4 linked regions of the Homo sapiens genome follow. The protein of the gene in region 2 interacts with the protein of the main gene of each other region in a pairwise test. Each region holds a gene or a part of one and is shown on either strand. Other genes may lie near its edges.

Region 1 (4,772 bases), on a different chromosome or scaffold from region 2:
GAGGACAATTAGAGAATCCAGGTCCTCAGAGGCTTTGTTGATGAGCACATGGGCTGGGGTTTTAAAGAACATAAGTGCCTGTAATAACAGAGCTTACCGCTGACTACTCTGGTGCTCTCTTCTCTGTAAGTGCATTAATTATTGAGAGAACTCATTTGCAGCACGCACACAGTTGAAAGGGCTACTTTGGACGCTAATCAGAAAATACACATTGTTGAAGGGAGCTAATTAGAGAATCACACAACTTTGTAGAGCTTTGCCTGAAAAACTGGATCAATCAGAGATATTGGATATTCAGAGATACTTGTCAGACCTGCAATAAACAAATACATGTAGGCATTGCATGTAAAGATGTAACACTGAGCTGTTTCCATTAGGAAGGATTTTTATTTCTCATCTGTCCATTTCAGTGACTGGAGCCCTCTTGATAACTACATCTGAAGTGGGAGCCCCTGCAGGCAGGATGCAGATATTATGAGTCCTATCTTTTGATTTCAAACACGTTTCTTCCTTCCAATCTAAGACCTGCGCATTCTGCAGTCCAGCCGGGACCACAATGCTATTACTTTGTGGAGGTTTAATAAGCCCTGTGCATTCAATGGGGAGTCACTAAAATAGAGATTTATCCCCAAATCTGTTGCAACACATTACAAATATGTCAAGCGTTCGTGATTGAGTCGGGTCTCAGAAAGAGCATGAGGCATTCTTGACCTATATATTTAAAGAACCCTGGAGGTAAATGTCTGTCCCATTTCCTCAAATATACAAACAACATGATAAAAATAATATTGAATAAAAATAATTTAAAATTTAAAATAAATAAATAATAAAATTAACAATTTGTTTATCAGATTCTTAGGAATAAAGACATAATCACTTTCAGGAGATTGAATGTATAAAACTACAAATCGCAAGACTGGTCAATTAAGGTGTATTGATTCACATACAAAAGGATGTTCACATTACAAAAGAATTATTCAATTTTTTCTTAATGACAGCTCTGTTAATGCTTTCATCACTTTTTTTGCAAATAATCCCTGGTTAGAGAAGACTGAAGAATAACTACCATAAACGAACATTAGTAATTTTCAATGCCATCAAGTTTCATAAAGTTTTAAAAACTCAAATTCTTTCAGGAACAAAGCTATTCTATATGGCAAGAGATTCCTGAACCCTCCACATTAGTGTCTATAATGGGTAGGCCTCATGCCATTATATTTTTCTAAGCCAAAGTTCAGATGCATCAAGTTACCAAAACCCTTTTTACAAGAATGCCAAATTATGTAATTCCTTCCTATAAGAATGTTATGGGCCAGGTGCGGTGGCTCACGCCTGTAATCCCAACACTTTGGGAGGCTGAGGCGGGTGGATCACCCGAGGTCAGGAATATGAGACCAGCCTGACCAACATGGAGAAACCCTGTCTCTACTAAAAATACAAAAATTAGCCAGGCGTGGTGGTGCATGCCTGTAATCCCAGCTACTCAGGAGGCTGAGGGGGGAGAATCGCTTGAACCGGGAGGTGGAGGTTGTGGCGAACCGAGTTGCACTCCAGCCTGGGCGACAAGAGCAAAACTCCATCTCAAAAAAAAAAAAAATGTTATGGCCCATTTATTGTCTAGGTATTTATTACTGAGCTTCCCTTGGATCCAGTTGACAGTAGGAAGCCAACGTTGAATTAGAATGCCTTTAATTTCAGTGAGCCCAGTCCAGTGTCGCTGGGGTCATTTAGTGAATTACATGCTGCCATTCCCAGTGAAATCATATAACTACTCATCATCACTTAGTAGAATAAAGATATCCTGAAAAAGCTAAATGGAGTTTTGAATCATAAATCCCAAGTGGTGCAACAATGTAATAACACAATGACAAAGAAATCATTTGCTGCATTTCCCAAAAATAAGGTCATTGCTCCTGTTGTTCGCGGAAAAAAATTTTCAAGACGGGTAATAACATTTTGAAAATTTGTATGCTCATTTAAATTGTATAAAATGCATTTTTAGGGCTTGATTTGGCCATATTTATTTTTAGTTCTCTTATACTTTTTTTTTTTTTTTTTGAGATGGAGTTTCATCCTTGTTGCCCAGGATAGAGTGCAATCGTGCAGCAACCTCCAATGCGCAGGTTCAAAAGATTCTCCTGCCTCAGCCTCCTGAGTAGCTGGGATTACAGGCGTGTACCACCACGTCCAGCTGATTTTTCTATTTTCAGTAGAGACGGGGTTTCCCCATTTTGGCCTGGCTGGTCTCGAACACCTGACCTCAGGTGATCCATTGCCTAGGCCTCCCAAAGTGGGCGGGGATTACAGGCCAGTTCTCTTATACTCTTGAATAGTCCTTTCCTTCTGTTATGCTGGTTGTTCTTTTTCTGTGGGTAAACTTGAAGGTGTTTCCTAAGGTTCAGGCTTTAAACACTGTCTAAACACATATCACTTTCATTGCCCCGCTAGCAGAGCAGCTGGCTAATGGCAGCCCTCACTTGGCTCAGGTGGTCTCAGATCCCCTCAGCCTGCACCTTCGGGGCCTATGGGTCCAAAGGGGCTGGATGAGGAAGGCTCAATTAATTATTGTTAGCATACAGTAACATAAGGAAAGCAGGGGATATTTTGAAGCAAAAGAAACAAGAATGTTCAGTTACTTTAGACTCAGAAAACGAGCAGTGAGTCATCCTAGAGCTACGTTTCTATGATAAAAATACCTACTAGATATCTTGTCTTGAATGTCCCCAGCTGCATCAAACTCAGCAGGTCTGAAACTAAACCCTTCATCTTTTGTCATCAAAGTACGATCTTTCCCCTATACACCCTTTCACAGTTAGTGATTTCACTGTCCACACAGTTTCCTGAGCTTAGAGCCTGGGAAGGAGTCACCCCTAACCCCTTCTCCTCTGTCACCACTCCCACTTGTCATTGACTCTGAAGCCACCTTCCTTGGACCCCCTTCATATCTCACAATTTAATTCCCTCTCTCACATCCCACAGCTGCTCCTGAGCTCAGACCATCATCATATCTCTCTCCCTGCACATCCTTTACCCTGGGCCCTCGCTCCAGGACCACACACCACCAGCCCATTCTCTAGACAGAGTTTTGCACCTGGTATGTCACGAGTTACAGGTGTGCCAAGATGGTGAGTCCTTCAGACCTCAAGGTGGCCAGAAACAGCTCCCTGGGTTCATCCCAGTGTACTGCACAAATACCCCTTGTCTGCCTGTTCCTCAAAAAGTGGGAAGCACTGGGCTGGATAAGGCACACTGTCTGTACCAAAACAGCAGAAACTCAGACCCAGCGTCAGTCCAGCTCAAGTCAGGCAGTGTTGGTTGCAAAGTGGACCTGGTGGCTGGGCCCTAATTGTGCTCATGCTTTGCAAGGAGGTGATGGGATATATTAAAGCCTTGAAACAGGGCCCTGAAGATGGGAATGAGAAGGAGTCAAGGCCAGGTGGCTCATGTCTGTAATCCCAGTGCTTTGAGAAGCTGAGGCAGGAGCATCACTTGAGTTCAAGAGTTTGAGACCAGCCTGGGAAACCAAGCAAGACCCTGTGTCTCCAGAATATTTTAAGAATAATAATTAGCCAGGCATGGTGGTATGTAACTGTAGCCCTAGCTACTCTGGAGGCTGAGGTGGAAGGTTTGCTTGAGCCCAGGAGTTTGAGGCTACAGTGAGCCATGAATGCACCATTGCACTCTAGCCTGGGCAACAGAGCAAGACTCTATCTCTTCTTGTTTAAAAAAGAAAAAAAAAAAAAAGAGTCAAGAGATATTTTGCCGGTAGAATTAACCTGGAGAGAAAGGTGTCAGTGAAACCTCTGAGGTTTCAAGGATGGAAGGATGGTGATAATGTTACACAAGATGGAGCACACAGGAGAGAAGCAGTATTTGGGATTGGGAGGGGATGGGGTTGGCCTTCATTAACTGAATTGGTAGACTGTGGCCTTCAGAATTCCAGATGGACACTCGTGTGGAAATGCCTAGCAAAGCACCTAAAATTCACATCTAGGGCTCAGGAGAAAGAGCAAAATGGAAAAGATAGATGGGAATGTTATTTATAAAGCAATGAGGAAAGCAGCCAAGCCTTCCGAGAGAGGCCTGAGAGCAGGCCACTGAACACTCCGTATTTAGAGGAAAGACAGAGAAAAGGATCCAGTCAAGGAAAGTGAGAAAGGGTGGCCAGAAATGTAGGCAGAGATCTGGAAGACCACAGTGCCCTGGCAGCTGAAAGGGCCAACAACAAAAATATCAACGGCATCAAATGCTATAGTAATGCAGGTAGGAAGAGGACGAAGAGGAAACCAGAGAATTTGGCAATGAGAGGTCAGGGTGACCTTTCAGTAGCTGATGGTGAAAGAAGCTGTGTCAGTTCAGGTTTTTGAGAAGCGCCTAGCAAGACAGATTAGACACACAAGGAATTTATTGGGGAAATTCTTGTGAAGAAGGAAGCAAAAGGAAGCAGGAGGTGGCAAGGAGAGTCTGGAGACCATAACAGAGGTCCGACACCTGTGAGAGGAGAAGGCGAAGGAGGGATTGGTTGGAGGCACGTCAGGCTGCGGTGCACTTCTGAGAAGGCTGCAGTGAGGCTGATGGGGTATCCCTGAGCAAAGGATGCCTGTTAGGGAGATCCTGCATCGGGCGGGGACGGCCATGAGAAAAGCCCTGTCACGCTTGTCATTGGCTTGCAGCATCCCAGAGAACACATGCCTCCCTTCCTGCAGCAGATGCTCTTGGTTTTTTTGTTTTGGTTTGGGTTTTTTGTTTGTTTTGTTTTGTTTTGTTTTGTT
Region 2 (5,553 bases):
CTGTTGCCCAGCCTGGAATGTGGTGGTGCGACCTTGGCTCACTGCAACATCCACCTCCTGGGTTCAAGTGATTCTTCTGCCTCAGCCTCTTGAGTAGCTGGGATTACAGGTGCCCACTGAAAGGCAAGGATTTTTTACCCATTTTACAGATTTATAAACTAAAGCTTGGAGTGGTTATAACTTGCACAAAGTCACAAAGCTGGTAAGTTCCTGTTCTAAGATTCTATGATTCTGGAACTGGTCTACACTTTAGGAAACTCCCACCTTCTTGTGTTCTAGGGTAGATAAGCCTGGTGCCCCACAATCCACCCTTTGGTGGCAGCAACAGCCAGATTCCTACTCCCCAGCCCTCTGGAGGGTCGTGTGAGACCACTGAGGAGCCTTTGATGAAATGGGGCTTTTCATCTTGGGTCAGCCCCTGAAACAAGGGGTGGAAGGAGTGTTTGGGTCCAAGAAAGAGAGTATGGCATCTTCTCTTTTGTGTGAAGGATTCAACTTCATGGAGAAGAATGAGCAAGGGGCTCATTCATGAGCCCTAGCCTGCTTCCCCTTTCTTCTAGGACTTCTAGAGACACTACGGAAACTGGAAATTCATGAGCAAATCCCATCACTGATACAGTACCCTGATGGCCAGACATTGACCCCTCCTCAGAAGGCTGCCCAGATACCATCTTGCCTGAGTTTCCCTCCCTCTCTCCTCTCCTCACTTACTTCTTTCCCCGCTTGCCTTTCTGACTCATACTCTGTAGGAGGCAATTCTGCAGACCCCACTACAGCCTAGAGCAGTCCCACCTCGGCTTGCAAAAGAAAGCCACCAGCACTTTTAAACGGATTGCTAACTTTAGATCTCCCAGCCTCGCTTCTTAGCTTCTCTGCCCAAGAGCCTTCTAGGGCCACAACAGCTCAGCCCACCCATTTCACAGCTGCCTCAGCTTGTACTACCCTCCCCAAGCATGGCACCACTAGTCTCTGAGTCTTCCAGCCAGATGATGCTCTCTCTCCTGGAGCTGTCAATCTGGAACATTGTGCCCATTGGTCCTTCCCAGCCAGCTACTTCACTGAGGTCTGCCTTCCCTCCAGAGTCCAAGAAAGAAGCATCCTCCTCTGGCCCAAAGCTGAACTTGAGATCCACCCCTCCAGGCTCATCCAGGACCTTCCTCAATCTATTACTTCTGTCTTTTCTAAATATTAAGTCTCTTCCTCATGCCTGCCTTCTCCCTCTACCCTATCCCTAGGTATTCACATATCTTCCCTCCTAAAAAAAACCTCCCCTCAACTCTGCTCCCCATCTCCAACTACCTTGCTATTTTTAATCTTCCCTTCACAGTCAAACCTTTCCAAAGAGCCATCTATATGCACTCCCACCACTTCCTCCCCATGCGCTCACTCCTCATTCCCCTTGGAATTTGAATTCCACCTCCCATACACAATTGAAACTGTTATTTCAAAGATTACCAATGATTCCTAGTCTCCAGAACCAATGGTATTTGCTCAGTTCCCATCTCCCTCAACTTCTCTGCAGCATTAAACCCTGTTGATCACCTGTGTTTCCCAAGTATTGCTCTCTCCTGGTTCTCCTCCAGCCCTTCTGCATCTGTTCTCCTACAGCCCAACTGTAGATACCCCTGTATATACAATTCTGTCTTTGGCACTCTGCCCTTAATTCTGTGTATGCTTTTCATTTATTATATCATCTATTTTGATAGCTCCAGCCACAACTTCTTTCAGATAGCTCCCAAATCTATATTTCCAGATCTGGCCTCCTTCCAAAGCTCCAGACTCCCTTCATTATCCACCTACTGAATCCACACGTCCCTTAGCTATTTCACTGACACCTGAAATGCAACATGTCCCAAAGCAAATTCTCCAAATCCCCCCTCTTCCCCTGCCTCCCCACAGCTGCTCCTCCTCTTAGCAGTTCCTGACTTTCATTAAGGGTATGTCTGTTCTCTCAGTCACTCAAACTCTAAACTTTGGAGTAATCTTGGGTTCCTATCTCTTTCTTGACACATCAACATCCAAGATGCCAGGCCCTATAGACTCCACCTCCCAAAGTAACTCATATCCATCCCCTCCTCTCCATTTCTGCTGCTGCTTCTCAAGTTCAGACTCTCCTAGCCTATCACAGTGATCTTCTAACCCATCCCCAACCAACAGTCCCTCCCCTACTCCAATGGACCCTCCACAGGGCTGCCAGATTTATCTTTCTGATCATGTCATTTTTAGTGGCTTCCCAAAGCCAACTGCTGAAAGACCAAATTCATTGGCCTTCCATTCAATGCCTTCATGATGTAGGAGCCTAGTAAATATTTGATAAAGGAATCAACTAATCAACCTGGTTGCCACCTCCTGAGTCTCATCTCCCATTGATCCTCCACCAGCCACTGAGTCACATAAACTGGACCATTTACTGCCCCTAAATATGCTATGAATATTCACACCTCCTTTCAATGCTGTTTTAACCTGGGATCACAACACTTTCTGTCTTCCCTGTCCAAACCATACCCATCCTATGTCCCAGATCAAGGAGAAGTAGCCACTCCCTTAAGTGTACAAAGCGTCTGCCACTTTTCACTCTTAAATTTGTTTATCTGTTGCTTCCATGTTCCCTAGCTAGTGTCCAGCTCCCTTCTAATAATGTCATAGGGCAGATGGGGAGGAGACAAAGCTAATTCTCCTACAGTTTCTTCTTTACCTCCCTGAATTAATTCCTCTGTCCACCCATTTGATTCTTTCTGTTCCCTCGCTCCTAGGCAGACACAATTTCAAGCAGCTCTATTGATCCGACAGCTCTGTGGCTGTCAGTCATTTCCTAGTTATTTTCGCTGCCAGTCATTCATACACAAAGGAGTGGCAGGAGGACTCTGAACTTTCCTCTGCATCCAGAGAAAAGGCAGGAAGGACCTGATTCTCTGTGCACACCTGAGATTCAGCAGAAGTAAGAAGCAAGGACCTTCTCCACATGGATCGAGCCACGTGCCCCATGACCCAGACAGGGACTGCCATTCTTCTACTTATGCAGAGGAGGAGAAAAAAGGGGTCCCCTGACCTGCTGTAAAAGGGTGCCCCATCCAGTCCCCTTGGGAAACCAAAATGAGAAGAACTGCATCTCTTCCTGGACTGGAAAGGTCCCATGGAAATCAGATTAAATCAGATAATACTTGTCAGAAGAGGCACTTAGAGTAATAGAATGTTCAATTTGGAAAGATCTACATATATTCGGATAGTATTGTACAACTTTTCAGATACAGTATCTTATTTGAGTCTCTCAGCAGCTCTATAAGGGAAGGGTTGGGGCGGGGGGCTATTATCCTCATCTTACACAGATGTTAAAGTCATTTGTCCAAGTTATTCATGTAAGTAGAGAGCAAAATGGAGTGTTTACCTCCTGCTCTATTGTCTGACCTTCTCAGCCTCCTTCATAGACTTTTCCCTCCCCTTTTAACCCCTTATATCCAAGTGCTCCCAGAGGGGGTATATTTATTTCCATTTCCATTCCTGTTCTACATTCTTTTTTTAATGGCTTTATATACTCCCATAGCATGCGTGGTACATGACTATAGTAAACACTTGATAAATATTTTTCAAACAAATGATTAAATGAATGAATGAAAGAGAGCCAAGGCCCAAAACCTAGCCTTCTGATGCCACACACAGGATCCCTGCACTGCATCATGTTGCCTCTCTGGCACCCTCTTGCATCCCATGTCAAAAGTCCTGCCTAGCATGCCTTCAAGAGACCTTCAGCCTCTGTCCATCACATTCAATTAATAATTAAAACAGCAGGAACAACAGGGATAACTAGGATTTCTTGTGCTTCTAGTGTGTCAGAGACCACTAGATGCTCCATACATGTTTTTTCCTACTTAATACTCTCAACCTGTGAAACAAGCTTTATCAGTCCCATTTTGCAGAAGATGAGGATGAGAGATATTAAATAATTAATGCAAGATCCTATCCCTAGTTAGTGCTGAACCTATTCCATCCAAAGCCTGTCATCCTCTGGCTATACCAGCGTTTCTCCATCTCAGCATTACTGACATTTTGGAGCTGGATAATTATTTGTTGTCCTGTGCATTGTAAGATGCTTAGCAGCACCCTTGACCTCTACCCACTAGATGCCAGTAGCAAACCCTCCCTAAGTTATGACACCAAAAAAATGTCTCCAGGCATTGCTAAATGTTCTATGATGGGGGGTGGGAGGGGAGAATTGCCCTTGTTGAGAACCACTGGGCTATACCATACTGACCACCTCCAGCAGTAAACTATCAAATACCAGAACCAGAGAAAACTTTGAAAAGTAAAAAGTGTTCATTTCCAACATCTAAGAAGAACCTCTAGTTCACCCCTTATAGTGTTTTATTGATTTTATTTATAGTCAGGAAGATTTTCTTACTTCTCAGCTAATTTCTTTCTGTAGCTTCAGTTTATTCTAAAACCTCCTTTCATCCCTCAAGGGATTATCAAATACGACTGGACAGTATGTACCAGTAATAAAGTTATTGGTGATTTGTGGCACAAGGATGAAGCAAAGCTTACCAAATCTTACAGAGGTGGACCTGGATGTCACTGATATGTACTAAAATATATTAATAGTAGAAATAGCCTATAAAAATATAGCATTAGAAATATTAACAACATTCCCTCTCCAGAACCACAAAGTCTTCCCAATACTCCCCCAAAGGCTCCTGAAAAATGATGTGACCAAAAGCCCAGTTCATAATGGGTGAAAGTGGAGGAGATCAAGAAGGGACAACAAGCATTAAATTAAGCATCGTGTTTACACTCTGGAGCATCAAGCATAACTTAAAAAAAAAAAGAGATGTTTTCCTTTGCTGCAAAAGAAAGCTCAGGAAGTAAGAGACTCCTCCCTTTTTAGGTACCTGGCAATGTACAGACTGGGCGGTGACATTTACTCAAGGAATTGCATACCAACATAGATTGTTATTCCCAAATCTCCCTTCTATATGATCTGGACATGACAATAGTTTAAGGTTCCCTGCCTAGATGTGATGGGGTTATTATTTAAGAAAAAAGTTTAAGAAATCATACAGTGAATATAAACAAACCATCACTTAGATTCAATAGCTGCTTATATTTTGCCATGTTTGATTTATATTGTGAGGGGGTGTTTTTTGATTAATCACAAGCTTTTAAAAAGATCCTTTTTCTTACCTCCAAAGAACAAATAACTTCAATGGGGGAGACAAGCCTTCATGTATGGAAAGGCTAAATAACAATACAATACTAATGAAGTGAGAAAATGAGTACAGACAGTGAGTAATTCAAAGGGCTGTCATCGTGAGCTGTGAAAGCTCCCAGAAGAAGGCAGGGATCAAGTCTTAAAGACTGTGTTGGATTTGGAGGGTGCCGGGGTGGTTGATCCAAGGAGACTGTGAATGCAGGAGCCCTTGGGCAGTGTGTGGAGAGCAGCCTGGCTGGAGTTGAGCTGTGAGGCCGACACTTGACCCTGAAGGCACTAGGGGGTTACTGAAGGTTCAAGCACCAAGCAGTGGTGTGATGAAAGTAGTGCTTTAGGAAGTTTAATGTGTC
Region 3 (4,772 bases), on a different chromosome or scaffold from region 2:
TGGGTACACAGAGTAAGGGGCACTGGATTGCCAGTTCTGCTGCTTGCTTGCTGTGTGTCCCAGGGAGGTCCGTTTGCCTCTCTGTGGCTCAGTCTCCCTTCTACAAAGTTGGATGTGAGAGAGGGGATCTGGAGGCCCCTCCTTGCCTCATCTAGAGGCTGAATAGCCCAGTGGTTAAGAGCTGGGAGTTGGCCGAAGCTGGGTTTGAATGCTGGTTCTGATATCTACTTGCTGTCTGATCCTGGAAAAGTGACTTAACCTCTCTGAACCTTAACCTTTCATCTGACTCTGGCACTCATGCCTGTCAATTGCTTAGCACAGGGCCAGGCACGTGGTCAGAGCTCAATGAATGGTGATGAGGATGAACGTTTTGAATCCTTAATCCCACCAGAGCCCCAACATTCACAGCACAGAGAACGCCCAGAGCTGCCAGTGAGTTGAGAGGGAGTGCGGAGAGGAGGGCCCAGGTGCCCACCACACCCCCCGCTGCCCACCTTGTTGCACTTCACACAGTGGTACGCATCCATGCCTGGGGAGTAGCGGAGGCTGAAGTCCAAGGCGGGCTCAGTGCTGGGCACAAGAGGACTGCCGTACAGGCTGACGGAGTGCTCCAGGAAGGCTGACTGCATGGTGGAGGGGGCCTGCCGGTAGCTGTGGCCATAGGTTGTGGCCAAGGTGTCCCAGGAGAAGCTAGGCTTGTAGAATGGGGGTGAGTCGGACAGTGGAGAGTCCCCATCCTGGGGTCGGGACAGCACAATGGGGCCCTCTGTGGAGATAACGACACAGGCCTGGTTACTCATTTAAACACAGGGGGTTGGGCACAGTGGCGTGGCTCATGCCTGCAATTCCAGCACTTTGGGAGGCTGAGGCAAGTGGGTCACTTGAGGTCGGGAGTTCAAGACCAGGCGGACCAACGTGGTGAAACTCTGTCTCTACCAAAAAATACAAAAATTAGCCAGGCGTGGTGGCTCACGCCTATAATCCCAGCTACTAGGGAGGCTGAGGCAGGAGAATTGCTTGAACCTGGGAGGCAGAGGTTGCAGTGAGTTGAGATCGTGCCACTGCACTCCAGCCTGGGCAACAGAGTGAGACACTGTCTCAAAAAATAAAATGAAATAAAATAAACACAGGGCACCCCCTTCCCACCACCCTCTACCACACACCACTACCTTCATCACCTCATGTGGAGGGTTTCAGGGTGTCAACCCAGATACTTACTGCCAGGAATGTCTGGGTCCTCACTGTGGCTCCTCAGCTTTTCCAGCCCAGAGACACCCCCAGCCTCACTCCACAGTGCCCACCTCACTCCCTGCACGGACCGGCCCAGCTGCTGCTTCTGGCCTCTTCTCCCACCTAGCCCACATCCGGGAATTAGCTCCCTGTCTGAGAGGCCCAAGCAGAAGCCACAGAGCCCGGGCTGCATCCAGTGACTTCGTGGGTCCTTCCTGACTCCAGGGCCCCAAGGGGCCCTGCTGCAAGAGTCCCTTCATCCTTCCTCCCCTTGGCACTCCCTGGGGAATGACAGTGGGTCACAGCGGGGTACCTGGTGCCGGGGCCATCCTGGCCAAGTTCTGGTCCTGCTCCAGCTCCGGCTCTCGTTTGAGGTTGGTCCAGTCCAGGCACTGGTTTGGGAATAGAGTGCTAAGGACAGGGCTGTTGCTTGGAGCCTGGTCTCTGGGCACTGTGGGGAGATAGGACCATCAGCATCAATAGCCACGGTTTCTGGGAAGCCCAGAGGGAGCAAGGAGGGCACGCCCTTCCTAGGAGGAGGAGGCCCAGAGAGACAGCCACGTGCCGCTGCTTCTGGCGGCTCACACTCCCGGGCTCTGCCCAGAGCAGGCGGCGGCAAGAAGAGGCCAGGAGGAGACCCCGGGGAAGACTTTGGACCAGTCTGTTTTTCTGAGCAACCCAACTCCAGCCCTAGACTGGGCCTCCAGTGAGGCCCCACATGCCAGTAACTAAGTACTGGCTCCAACCTGACACTCTCGTCTCCCTAACAGGGCAGAAGGGATGAGGGCATCACTCATTTGTCTACTCCTTTCATCTGCAACCCACAGTTACTGCACTCCTGTTTCCAGACTTGGAAGAAGAGGCTGCTGCAGGAGGGACGCTGCTGCACCCTCATCACGCAGAGCAGAGAGCCCCCCGTGGGTGCAGCAGGCGCCAGCCCGGGCTCTGACTCACCCGGGGTAAGGGCAGGAGGCCAGAGCGGTTCATCTTCCTGCACACGGGGCTGGTGGTAGGTGTGAGCCTTCTTGCTCTTCACCAGGAAGGAGCGTGGCATTTTCAGTGTGCACCCCACACCTGCAAGGGGGAGGGATGGGAGCGGTTAGGAAGGACAAGAGAACAATACCCCTCCATATCTCAGAACCTCCTCCTGAGATAAAACACCAGCTATACTGGGTTGAACAGTGGCCCCCAAAGTTCATGTCCACCCAGAACCTGTGAATGTGACCTTATTAGCAATAGGGTGTTTTTGCAGATGTAATCAAGTTATGATGAGGTCATTCCGGGTTAGGATGGGCCCTCAATCCAAGATGACTCGTGTCCTTATAAGAAGATGGAAATTTGGACCCAGAGACACAGACACCCAGGGAGAACGCCGTGTGCCGACAACAGAGCAGAGAGTGACACTTCTATCAGCCAGAGAATGCCAGGCAGTGCCGACAGCCGCCAGAACTCGGAGCTTCTATCAGCCAGAGAATGCCAGGCAGTGCCGACAGCCGCCAGAACTCAGAGAGGGGCATGAAACCCTCTCCCCTGGCGTCTGCAGAAAGAACCCACTTTGCGGACACCTCGATTTTGGATTTCTAGATCCCAGAACCATGAAAGAATAAATTTCTGTTGGTTTTAAGCCACCTGTTTGTGCTATTTTGTTACGGCAGCTACAAATCCTAACTTCCCTCACTGCTCCTTCACCAGGAAATGAATGCATCGCCCCCTAGAAAACGCTCAGACAAGCCTGCTCCCATTGGCATGACCTGGGCTGCAATGGAGCAGAAAAGGAAAGGCAGGGACTGGGGTCTCCCTCTGTGACACACAGTGGACCCCAATTCTAGAAAGCTACATTTGGGTACCAGTGAGATTCACCTTCAGAGGCCATAGAAACGGGTGGTCTGAGCTTAGGTTTTGGAATCAGTGGTTCGTGGGTTAGAATCTCAGTTCACTTGCTGTGCAATTTGGGACACACACTTAACCTCTCTGGGCCTATCCCCTTTGCTGTAAGTGGGGATGTCCAGGCTTGCAGTGCTGACAGGTGCATCACAGGTGTTCAGTGTCTATCACTGGGGGCTCTGGCAGAGAAGCTGCAGCAAACGAGGGGACATTGCCAATCCACGTGCTCCTGCAAGCCGCAAGCCACAGCCGCCAGAGCACGGCTGCGCCTTGTCCACAGCCCTGGCCCAGAGTCTGTTCCCTAGAGAGACAGGGGCTTTCTCTCTCTGAGGAGTGGGGTGTGGGGACTCAAGACCTGAGAGGACCCCCAACTCCACTGCACCTGGAGGCCTGAGGCTTCATGGACACAGGAGAAGAGGCGAACAGCCCCCAGCTTCCGTGGGCAGCCCAGCATCACTACCAACCCCACCAGTCAGGGAGTGGGAGAAGAAACCAAGGACCACATCAGTCAAGGGACCATCCCAGGCAGAGTCAGGGAGTGACAGGGCTGGACCAACTTGACCACCCCAGGACTCCTGGCTTCCCCTGCAGAGCCCTCTGGAGCTGAGAGCCCTGCCTGGCCCCCAGAATGGTTCACATCCCTGCACTCAGCCTGTGAGGTTCCCCCGGGCACTCTGGAGAGCATCTTCTGGTGGTCCTCTATCCTTTCTGCCCCCACGCTGCACCCAGGCCGACACCAGGCCCATGCCTGAGGCGTCAGAGGAGTCCCACCCCCCCACCCCTTGGGCCAGCCGCCATGCAAGGCTGCAGGGGTGATAGGGTCCGGAGAAGGCGGGAGAGGGATCACAGCTGCTTCAGAACAGCAGTGAGGGCCTGGGTGATAAGGCCTTGGCCCAGGAGCAGGGTGGGAGGTGGGAGATTAGAGAATGCAGCTTGGAAAAGGGCCAGGGACTCACCCCTTCCCCAAGGAGATGAACCACAGCCAGGCAGAAGAGGGACCCGACTATGCCCAGGCCTGCTTCCCCCTGGCCCAGAGCCTGGGGGCATCAAGAGTTTGGACTGGGGGCTCTGCACAGGGGGCCAAGCTCAGGCCCAGCCCTTGCCTGCTGTAAGGCTCATCACTGAGCCTCAGTGCTCATATCTGCTAAACGGGGATCCCAATCCAACCACATGGGATGGTGGGGAGCGAGAAAGGACCTTTATCCATCAGGAGCGAGTGTGAGAGGTGCTCAGCATGTGCTCCCCCGCATCCCAGCACCCAGCCCACTGCAGGTGCATTCAAAGGACGGGGTAAGCCCTGTGCCAAGGGCTGCAGCAGCCTCCCAGAAGCCAGGGCCGCGCTCAAGGCCCTGTACTCTCTGAGCTCTAAAATTAGGAGAAAGGACCTTGAAGGCCTCTGGGGTCCCTTCCCGCGGTCAGATTCTCGGCTCTCTGAACACAGGCTCGGGCCGGGGGCAGCCCACGGCCTTATCTCCCAGGGACACGTCTTCCTCCTCTTGCCTCCTCCCCCTCCCTCACCAGGGCTCCCCACACCCCCCTTCCTTCCCGCTTTTAACTCTTCTTCGCTTCAAGAAAGCCCATGGGGAGGCCAGACCCTAGGGGGAGAGGAGGGGACCCAGTGAGCAGGAGGAGGACTGGGGGTGTGGGGTTCCCCTTGC
Region 4 (4,772 bases), on a different chromosome or scaffold from region 2:
ACGCTCTAATAGCCCCTGTGGTCCCTATGCTGAGGAGGCTGAGAGGTCCTGAGCACGGGTGGGGCCCCGGCCACTCTTGGCCACCTCTGGCCGTGCCTGGAATTGAGCCATAAGTGGGCAGGGTAGGTGCTGGAGCTCAGGAAATGAGGACTCCCCTGCCTCCGCCGCTGCCACCACCACCACTGCTGACAGGCAGAGCCGCCTGGTCCTGAGTGTGGAGATGGCAGAACCTTCTCAGCCCTAGTGATTGTGTCTGTGGGACCCCCCAGGCTGCCTCACAGGCCATGTTCTAAGGTACCCACTGGTCTCTGCCCCACTTCCCGGCCTCACGGGAACCCACCTGCAAGGGCCCCGTGTCACCTGGCGGGAAGCTGTGGCCCAGGGCCTCTGCATCTCTTCTTTGTAAGAGATGTTTTTTAAAATGCATTTTCTCCTCTATACAGAATCTAGAAAAGCATATTAAAAAGAAGGAAATGGCCTGTCCTCTGCAGCTGGAAGAGAGGGGCCAAGCAGCTTCAGGGCCTGCCCGCCGCCCTGCTCCCCCGGCCCTGCTCCCACTGCGCCCCCCCCAACCCTGCTCCCCCAGCCACGGCCTTGCTCCCCCCGTCTCCGCTCCTCCCCGCACCACCCCGCTCCCCTCAACCCCACCCTGCTCTGCCGCAGACCTCAGTTTGCATCCATCCTGTGCCACATACGTTATGTTTAAAGTAAAAGTGTTTTCAGTTGTTAGAGATGAACATAGTGTGCAATTTGGTTTCACACTTTAGTGTTAATATTTGACCTTTTTTGGCATATCGTTAAAATTACAGGAAAGCCTATTTTCAGTCAGTCACACCCGTCGTAGGCTTCATCATTGCCTCATTTTGCATTTCCCTCTTTTTGGACTTTATTAGATTATTTTTCTCTTCAGGTTTTTATGCAGACGTGTCCTGTGCTTGGGTGTGTGCTCATGTGGTGGTGACCGCGCTGAGCCTCTGGGCTCTGGGCTCTAGGCTGGTCGTGACACCAGCTTCTCCATAGGGCCGTCTGCTTACCCCTCAGCCTCTCTGGCGAGACAGTCAAGTGTGTGTCCGGACACCAGCTGCTGCGTAATCGGTGGGATAAAGCAGCCGCCTCGTGTTCACAGACCTGTGGGCAGGGCCTGCTGGGGATGGTTTTCTCTGCTCCCCGTGCCCAGCACAGGCAGCTTCACCCCACGCTGGTGGTCGGCACTGGCCTCAGCCGGACCACGCACAGAGGCCTCCTGGGTGGCCATCGTGTGGCCTTCTCGTAGCGTCCCAGGTGGGCAGGGAGTGTGTGATATGTTTGTGATCTCGCTGTGGACATTGGCCTAAAGCCCTGCCCTGAGCTTTGTCCAGGCTTAGGCGGGGGACGGTGTCCCCCTCAGGGAGCAGGTGGAGTGGAGGAAGTGGCGGGGCCATCTTTGGAGTGGCTTATAGAGAAATTCACTCCAAGCCTGGCTTCCGTGTTGTCTCTCTGAAGGTCGGGAGAGGTGGGCTTGAAAACCTTGTAGCTTGAGAAGTGGGTGCCGCCTGTACGAAGCCGAGGCGGTGCCCTCCCTCTCCACAGCTGCCCGCCCTTCACAGAGTCCTGGCGGCAGCTCGGGGCCGCAGGTGGTGTAGAGCGTGGCTGTGTGGGGTGGCAGGCAACTCCCTTCTGACGCGCTTTCCCGCCACAGGCTTTACTGCAGATGGTGCGTGACGAGAGCCACCAGATCCTGGCGCTGTCAGAAGGCCTTGCACCCCCAAGCGGCGAGCCACACCCACCCCGGAAGGAAGACGAGATACAGGACATCTCGCTCCATGGGGGAAAGACGCAGGTTTATTTTGCCCTTCACACACTTCTTTTCCAAAGGATTTAAGGAGCTTGTGGTAATGGCCGCGTCCTTAGGGCCACGTGGACACTAGGATTTCTTTCTTTTTTTTTTTTTTTTTTTTTTTTTTTGAGACTCGGCTCACTGCAACCTCCACCACCCCGGGTCAAGCAGTTCTCTGCCTCAGCCTCCCGAGTAGCTGGGATTACAGGTGCATGCCACCATGCCCAGCTAATTTTTGTATTTTTAGTAGAGACGGGCTTTCACCATCTTAGCTAGGCTGGTCTTGAACTCCAGACCTTGTGATCCACCCGCCTCAGCCTCCCAAAGTGCTGGGATTACAGGCATGAGCCACCGTGCCTGGCCTAGGATTTTTTTTAGCACGGCCAAAAAGACTGAGGTCCAAGAACCCTGGGGAGGCCTTCCCATCTCCCACAGCCAGCGCAGGCTCTCGGGGCAGGTTCCCTGCGGGACGTGGAGGTGTGTGGGGGGCAGAAGGGCTCAGGGCTTTCAGGCCTGTGCCCTGTGTGAGCCTGCGGGGAGGCTGAGAGTGGTCCCTCCTGGCCATGTGGCCCTGCGGACTCGGCCCATTCCAGCACTTGTCCCCCAGGGCCTCTCCTCCTGCCACTCGGGTGACTTGCCCTCCGGCCTCATTCCTCCCCTTGGGTCTCTCCTACCTCCCCCTCCACACCCCAAGCCCCAGCAACTGGACCTCAGGGCCTCACCTCTGTGCTGTCGACCCCGCACCCCACTTTTCCCCAAGTCCTCCCCATCTCCCTGCCTGTCTGCTTCCATCACCAGGGCTTGTGGAGGTTGTGGAGTGGGTGCCAACTCCCATCACGCTCCCTCCCATCTCCGTGCCCACCCTGTCCTGCCCCTGTGCCTGCCTCTGACTGGGATCAAAGCTTTGTGAGGGAGGGAAGGGCTTTCTCCCTGTGCCTGGAACGCACAGGGTGTGCTGGTGCCATGGAGAGCCGGTGGGAGGGTCAGCCCCACCCGCCTCCGCTCGCCCCTCCAGCAGGCCCTGGTTGTGTGCGAGCGGCAGCCTGGCTGGCATTCAGGAGGCTCATTGGTGCTGCACGCTGCCCCTGGGGACCAGCGGGTAGCCCCTTGCAGCCTTAGGTCCCCTCCAGGCCCTGGGCCTTGAAGGCACAGCAGCAGGAAAAGAGGGAAGGAGCTTTGCTGACATTTTCCTGACCTTACTTTATCGTCTTTTTCAGTCTCTTCTGTGCTCATGATGGCAGCCTTTGCTTCTCGTGCCTTGAATGGCCCTGGGCAGTGTGTGTCTTCTCTTCTGTCAGGGTCATTTCTGTTTGAACGGCTGTCAGTCTGCTCAGCTGCCGTAACAGAACACCCCAGACCAGGGGGCTTAAACAGCAGACATTGATTTCACCTGTTGTGGCATCAGGGTGCCCACAGGGTTGGATTCTGGTGTAGGCGCCCTTCCTGGTTTGCGGACAGCGTCTCCGTGCTGTGTCCTCATATGATGGAGACAGCGAGTGAGCTCTGGTGTCTCTTCCTCTTCTTAAGAGGCCTCATTTACCCTGAATCACCTCCCGCAGGCCCCATCTCCAAACGCAGTCACACTGCGAACTTTAGGGCACAAGGATGCAGGTGCATTTGTGAGGACGCCACGTTTCTTCCTTCTTCCTTTAGGAAGTGCCCACCGCGTGCCCCGATTGGAGAGGGGACCTTCTGCAGGTTGTGCAAGAGGCCTTTGAAAAAGAGCAGGAGATGCAGGGGGTTGAGCTGCAGCCCCGACTCAGTGGCTCAGATCTGGGGGGTCACAGCTCCCTGCTCGAAAGGCTGGAGAAGATCATCCGTGAGCAGGTGAGTGTCAGCTCTGCCACCAGGCCTCAGTTTGCCCCAGGGGTCCAGCCCTGGCAGAGAGGGTGACACAGACTGTTTTGTGTGTGAATTTCGGTTTGTGTGTTTCTCTCGACCGCTGGAATGTGGCTGTCACTTACCCAGGTGTTGACGCTCAGTCCATGCAGGATGCTGCACTTTTCCACCTGCAGCTGTAACAGGACAGGTGTGCTCGAGATGCACCCTCAGGCCTCACTCTTTTCTGAGATAGGTGGCTAAAGAAACGTTCTCCATTCCAAGTAGCCCCTCCTAGGTTGAGAGGTGCTCTGTGTGCAGGGCTGGGTGGCGTTGGTGCCGTGGGGACACTGGAAATCCTGTTCCTGCCAGCATACACGAGGAAACCTAGTGTTGAGAGTAACTGGCTTGCAGGCCTCACGCAGGGTAGTGCAGCCCAGCCCTGACGCCTGCAGGCCCCAGAGCTGAGGCCCAGCAGATACTGTGCACCCATCCCAGACTCAGCAGGCTTGTCCCGGCGGAGCTGGTTTTGAGGGCGGGCAGCAGGGAAGGCCGGGGCATGGGGTGGCTGCCCAATGCTCAGGCTGCTTGTCCCATTGTGCCCCCAGGGAGACCTGCAGGAAAAGTCCCTGGAGCATCTTCGCTTGCCGGACCGGAGCAGCCTGCTGTCCGAGATCCAGGCGCTGCGTGCCCAGCTGCGCATGACGCACCTGCAGAACCAGGAGAAGCTGCAGCACTTGCGCACGGCGCTGACAAGCGCAGAGGCGCGCGGGAGCCAGCAGGAGCACCAGCTGCGCAGGCAGGGTGGGTGTCACTGTCTACACTGCCTGGGGCCCGGCCTCTGCACCTGCCCGCCCGACACTCACCTGTGTGGCCTTGGGAGCAGAGGGTGGTGACAGGGCATCATCTAGTCAAGCCCCTGAGTGTTGCCATGGTTGTCAGCTGATAGGACTGAGCAGAAAGGACCCTGGAGACAGGCAGCGCTGGGTGGGGCTGGCACGGAGGCCTCACTCTTGGGCCTGATGTGGGCAAGAGGGGCCTGGGTTGGGCTCTGAGTGCTGGCAGATTCTTGGGAGCTCATGCTAGAGTTCAGGAATGTCTCGTAGGTTTCTACATTTAATTTAGCTTCTTCGGGAGT

Evidence for each region. The genes of interacting proteins can lie anywhere in the genome.
Region 1: the proteins of KALRN (region 2) and DSCAM interact in a two-hybrid assay, tested with the Homo sapiens proteins (one large-scale study listed by BioGRID and IntAct).
Region 3: the proteins of KALRN (region 2) and GFI1B interact in a two-hybrid assay, tested with the Homo sapiens proteins (one large-scale study listed by BioGRID and IntAct).
Region 4: the proteins of KALRN (region 2) and PCNT interact in a two-hybrid assay, tested with the Homo sapiens proteins (one large-scale study listed by BioGRID and IntAct).

The regions. Positions count from the first base shown.
Region 1 is NC_000021.9:40,014,390-40,019,161, reverse strand, and holds part of DSCAM (cell adhesion molecule DSCAM isoform CHD2-42 precursor), read left to right. Parts: intron 1-4,772. UniProt on the Homo sapiens protein: Cell adhesion molecule that plays a role in neuronal self-avoidance. Promotes repulsion between specific neuronal processes of either the same cell or the same subtype of cells.
Region 2 is NC_000003.12:124,039,045-124,044,597, reverse strand, and holds part of KALRN (kalirin), read right to left. Parts: intron 1-5,553. UniProt on the Homo sapiens protein: Promotes the exchange of GDP by GTP. Activates specific Rho GTPase family members, thereby inducing various signaling mechanisms that regulate neuronal shape, growth, and plasticity, through their effects on the actin cytoskeleton.
Region 3 is NC_000009.12:132,984,191-132,988,962, reverse strand, and holds part of GFI1B (zinc finger protein Gfi-1b), read right to left. Parts: intron 2,305-4,772; 5' UTR 2,285-2,304; coding exon 2,185-2,284; intron 1,682-2,184; coding exon 1,544-1,681; intron 767-1,543; coding exon 495-766; intron 1-494. UniProt on the Homo sapiens protein: Essential proto-oncogenic transcriptional regulator necessary for development and differentiation of erythroid and megakaryocytic lineages.
Region 4 is NC_000021.9:46,424,153-46,428,924, forward strand, and holds part of PCNT (pericentrin), read left to right. Parts: intron 1-1,678; coding exon 1,679-1,819; intron 1,820-3,469; coding exon 3,470-3,643; intron 3,644-4,242; coding exon 4,243-4,438; intron 4,439-4,772. UniProt on the Homo sapiens protein: Integral component of the filamentous matrix of the centrosome involved in the initial establishment of organized microtubule arrays in both mitosis and meiosis. Plays a role, together with DISC1, in the microtubule network formation.